2 separate regions of the Homo sapiens genome follow, and region 1 is linked to region 2. The links come from fine-mapping of genetic effects on gene expression. A gene starts in region 2. The other region holds a variant in brackets. All regions are shown on one strand. Distances are between the middles of the regions.

Region 1 (2,870 bases), 51 kb before region 2:
GCCCCTGGGAACTGAATGTCTCGGTATAAAACCCGATTGTACATTTGTTCAAGTCTGAGATAGGAGAAAAGCTGCCCTGTGGCAGGAGGTGAGACATGTTTGCAATAATACTGCCTTGTTATTCTTTACTCCACTGAGATGTTTGGGTGGAGAGAAACATAAATCTGGCCTACGTGCACGTCCAGGCATAGTACTTTCCCTCGAACTTAATTATGATATAGATTCTTTTGCTCACGTTTTTTGTTGACCTTCTCCTTATTATCACCCTGCTCTCCTACTACATTCCTTTTTGCTGAAATAATGAAAATAATAATGAACAAAAACTGAAGACACTCAGAGGCCGGTGCCGGTGCAGGTCCTTGGTGTGCTGAGCACCGGTCCCCTGGGCCCACTATTGTTTCTCTATACTTTGTCTCTGCGTCTTATTTCTTTTCTCAGTCTCTCGCCCCACCCGACTAGAAATACCCACAGGTGTGGAGGGGCAGGCCACCCCTTCAGAAGTGACTTGATATGCACAAAAGGTCAGTTTCTACCCAAGCCAGCATCATCACCACTACAGGCAATTAGGTTTTTCTTCAATGACACAATGAATGATGAAAGAAAACTAACAGACATCCTGACTTCCCTTGAGTCAAGGGGAATATTCATGTTTGAAAAAACAGCACACAGTATAATTTAGTTCATTTTAATTGAAATTGGCTGAACGCAAAGGAAACATGATATGAATGGTTTAAGTCATTTTGTGCATTCAAAATAAGAGTATTTAGAACATTTCAGAACAATCAGAGAAAAACATGATTTCATGATAAAAATAATACAAATGTCTGGTGACATTTTACATGTATTCGCAATTCCTTTCTTCCCCTTTTGCAAGTCCAACACTTCAGGCCATACACATAATGCAAAACAAGAAAAATAAAACTAGCCACATTGACATGTCAGATTTTATTACACTTTTTAAAACTGTACAAAGAGCACATGTGCATGAGTTAAAAAACAAGGGAAATGTAGAGTGTTAAAAAAGAAATACAAAATAAATCTGAGACATGAAACAAAAAAATTCCATTCTGTGAATTGAAATAAAAAGGTATCTTGCTTACTAAAAAAGTGTTACTTCAATATATTAAGTCTTTTGATTAGGAATACAGCACAAGACTTTCTTCACCTATTTGTTAACACATCAGGCTCAGTCTCACTGAAGAGAGGATGAATCATGACATTACCTTACCAGCCACAGGCAGGCAACTAAATGTGCATGGATATGGTACAACGTCTGTGAGGTATTACAATAAATAAATCTTTATTAGC[TG/G]TTCAATAAAGCCAGCAGTGGACGTCACCATTTCAACTTTACTGTCGACAGGGAGACTCCACTGCCTGCCTCTTTTTGCCTCGATGACTTTCTGTGAGGGTTTTTCACACTTAGAAAAAGAGAGAAGACAAAAGTATTTAATAAATAGCATTAAAAGGCAAAATGCCACGGTCACCTTACATGTACATAAAAGTCTGTGTGCTGAAGAGGGGCTGTGACAGACACACGAAGGACCATGCGTGTGGTCACATTAGAATTCATGTTAAAACATTTTAGAAAAGGCTCAACTACGAGCATGCCCACATTTTTGCTTCGCGTCTACATGACTGTGGTGGAGAGATGCGGCTGAGGTGTGCTGGGGGCTGAGGAGGCAGGCACTGGGGCTCCATGCGCCGTGACCTTGGCTACCTCTCCCACCCAGTCAGCTTCTATCCCAGCTTCCCAATGACTCACAATCTGGCAGCTTTTTCCTTCTGTGGTTAAACTGTCAGGCAGATTTGCTGCTACTACAATTTACTTCAATTGCCTTCTATTTATGAGGTTAAAATGATTTTCTTTGATGACTTAAAGGGATTTAACAATGTGTTCCACTTTGGAGCCCATTAAGCATGACTGCTTTGGATGTACAGCAGCTTTCATCTCAGAGGCTCCAAAATCCTTGAGAAATGTCCCAGTGAGGGGCTGCAGTGGACCTGGTACCAGAAAGTGTGGGCCTGAGCCCCAGCGCTGCCTCGTCTAGCTGTGCAACCTTGGATAAGTGACCCATTCTATGTCTCTGCTGCTTCAAATGTAAAATGGAGGTGATAACAGCACCTGCATCTCACAGGACTGCTGTCCTCTTAACATAGATTAGTACCTGTCATTAAAACAATGACATGTGACTGGCATGTAGACATTCTGGCTAAGTAAATTAACATAAATTCATCTCTATTCTTTAGAAATTTAGAAATCTGAGGTATTTTCAAAACCTTATAAATGTATACCTGTATAAAAAATGTTAAGACACTTGGCATTAATAAAATGTGACTGATAAATTCATGCAAGTAAGATAACTCTGGCTATCCTTACACTCTTATTCTTTGAATTCTACTTTGACTCTACTCAAAGGAAATCTCCATACTTAACTACTTTGTTGTTATGGTTTCATTTCAAACACTTACTTTAACAAAAGTAGTACTCATAGTTCTAAAAGTGGTTTCTCACTGTCCTGTTTTTCTTCAGCTTCTTCAGATCCTACGTGGTGGAGAAGGGGACAAAGAAAAAGTATTTCATTCCATTACAGTAACAAACTATTTTAAATAAATAGGTTTAAAATTATAACATATACACATAAAAACATTAAACATATGTTTAATCCTCAAGAGATTTAGGTTAACTGCTATTTGAAAGCTTTATTTATTTCTTGTAACAGGAAAACCTTTAAACAATAATCTATCACTTACACTAATCTGTCAAAATGGATTTCACTTATGTACTAAGAATATTCATGCAGACCAATAACTATTATCAATCACTATTCTTCCTCTGCCTCTTTGCTGACAAGCTTGCATATATTTTTTTA
Region 2 (2,921 bases):
TGCCAAGTTCATTCTTCCTTTAGCTCCTTTACACTGTTTATATCTGCCTAGAAACTTCCAGCCCATTTTCTCATGGCTGACTCAGCTAAACATTCAGCTATCACCCAAAATGTCACCTCGTGTTACCTCCTTAGGGAGGTCTTCCCTGACCATCCCATTTCTCCATACAACCCAGTCACTCTCAAACTCTCTACCCAGTAGTATCTTTTCTGACATTTATTCCTATCTAAACTTGTCTCTTTGATTTACATGTTTATTATATTCTCCAACAAAAGTTAAAGTCTTTGAGGGTATGGGCCTTATCTAAATTGCTCACTACTCAATCTCTAAAACCTAAAACAATGAGTGGCATAGACAATCACTCAGGCAAACTGTCCATTGAATAAATCCAAATGATGTTAATCACCATCCTTCTGTGAACATAAGTAAGGTAATATCCCTCAGAGGCTGTTTCATTTCATTTCTTTCATGCAGTTTTAGGCAATGCAATAATGCAGTTTTAAAAGACCAATGTTTGAGACAGTTAGATTTTAAAGACAGTGACTTCTACACGACAACATATTGTATGTTTTCATTTTATGAACATGAATAATCCACCACCTTATCAGAATCCATCAATAAAACAAGGATACCATAAGTCGTTTTGTGAGATCCTGCTTCTAGAAAGAGGCGTATGGGTAGATATGGTATACAGACGGGAATTACCTTTCAGAATTCTTCCTAACAAGGAAATGTGGCAAACTGGACTAATTCCAGTAAAGATTTAATTAGACCCGTTACTTGGTTACCTTGCTAAACTTATCCAAACTAGTACTGTGTCAAGTGATGAATTCAGTGATTCCATCTGTGAAATAGAAGACAAATGACACAGTGAACAAAGAAAAGTTCCACAATGTCCACCCATGTTTGAACTAAAAGAGAGGGGGAAAAATCCCTAACCCTAAATCAAAAGTATTCAAGCAACTAAGATTTCAAACAATGGCGAGATATCTACGAGTAGGTGAAGCAGTTAACTGAAACCACAGGGAGAACATTCATGATTCGTGCTTTCTTTCTTTTTTTTTTTTTTGAACACGACTTTTCTCAATGAATAGAAGAGACTCACAACCGCCTGTGTCTGGACAACCCACGCATTACACCCAGTCACCAATTCTTGGTCCTTCTTGGGGGCCCATGGCGCCAGCCCGGGGCCGACCCCACCGGGGACTCCTCAGGGTCCGCAGGCTGGAGGAATGAGGACACTCCCGCTACCTATATCCATCCCTGAATCCCGGCCCACGCCGTGGGAGCAGCGGGGCTCAGCATTCTGCAACTTCACTCTTGTGTCCATTATGAGCACAGCCTGCCTCGCCCCTCCTCCTCCCCTGGAGGCTCGCGCAGGACTCAGGAAACAGAACAGGACCAGGATATGGCCTCCGTCCGCGGGTCCCCTGTACGCCCCCATGTAAGTCATCTGACCCAGGAGACTCAGTTTTCCAACCTGTCAAATAGGGGAACGAGAAACCCAGCCTACCTTAACGGGTGGTTCCTGGCCGGCCGCCCCAGGCTGGCCCGGGAACTGCGGATCCGCGGTCGCGCCCCGGCCTGAGGGGCGGGGCTTGGCGGGGCGTGACCGGGACCCAGTCCAGCGGACAACGCGCAGCCCACCGCCCGCACCCAGCAGCCCCGGGACCTCCGGCCCGTGACGTCAGCACGCTGACGTCGACGCACACAGCTCGCATCTCGCTCGAGGGACCAAAGACCCGACTGGTTCCTGAGTGCCTCCATAGAGGAGCCAACCTATTGGCCAGATGACATGTCAATCTTCTACTGACCAGTAAACGACGCGGGAAGGAGGGAGAGGGCGAGCCGGTCTGCCTGTAGGAATGGGTGGGAAATCTGGGCATCCAGCTTTGAAACACGGAGCTGGTTGGACTTTCCCGCATTGTGCATCGCACGGTTTAACAAGCGCCCGCTTCCTCTTCGTCCGCGTTTCTGCGCCTTCCGCTTCCCTTCAGTTATTCGGTGGGGGTTTATGCTCCAGCTCGTGGGAAAATGTCATGGAAATGGGTTTCAGGGCCTCTTGGGCACCTCATGCTGAGCCCTCCAGGAATAAAAACAGGGCATACCATTTCTATGTCGGTACTCAGCTCAAGAGTCACCTCTTCTAACTCTCACTTCCCCCAGACCTATTTAGGATACCTTTTCTCAGCGCTCCTAGTTCATAACTAACATCTCTAAGCGGTAGTCACATTTAATTATATCTATATGTCTGTTTTCACACGAAGTTAGGCACCTTTTATTGTTTTATTTAAAATTTAATTAAACTTTTCTCCCAACGGATGCTACACTTATTCACATTTTTAGAAGTACAGAGGTATACAGTGAACATTCTTTGGATCCCCATTTCATTATTTGTATATTTTTCCAAAGTCATTCTAAGTACCGTTATTAATTTTAAATTACACAAGTAAGATTTTGTCCATGCGAAAAAAAAAAAAAGCTTAAACGTTACAATTATGCTTATATCCCTTTTAGGCCCTAATTACAAACCCAGTCTGTAGATGATGACTCCTAGTTCCTGTGCATTTGCAAGTGTAGATGTTACTTTTTTACACTTAGCATTGAAATCTTTCCATATCTGTATATAAATCTACCTCATTCTCTGAAAATGCTGCATGTCCTCAGAACCAATATGTGTATATATATACATACATAATTAATGTACCATTCCCCCACCCTCACGTTTGTTTATTAATATTATTATGAGAAGCAATGGTACCATAAATATATATGTAGATGCCTTTTTGTACTTAGGTCCAAGTATTTCTCTAGAGTGCAGATACCAACAAGAGAATGTACTGGATCACAGAGTTTGCACGATGTAAATCCTTAATAGATTTCACTGATTTGCTCCCCTGAGTAGTTGTTTTAACTTACAT

The links.
Region 1: its variant is fine-mapped to the expression of STARD3NL in whole blood (TOPMed, PIP above 0.99).

Annotation. Positions count from the first base shown.
Region 1 is chr7:38,228,471-38,231,340 of GRCh38, reverse strand. It overlaps STARD3NL (STARD3 N-terminal like), which reads right to left. Exons shown (of 9, transcript NM_032016.4): 8 at 2,470-2,542; 9 at 672-1,418. The coding sequence ends at 2,487. Among named protein-coding and RNA genes, the nearest start is that of TARP, 44 kb to the left of the region's middle. The variant TG/G (reference allele first, on the strand shown) is at 1,309.
Region 2 is chr7:38,177,013-38,179,933 of GRCh38, reverse strand. STARD3NL (STARD3 N-terminal like) reads right to left here and starts at 1,689. Exons shown (of 9, transcript NM_032016.4): 1 at 1,514-1,689. RefSeq lists a silencer at 1,433-1,712 and an enhancer at 1,963-2,042.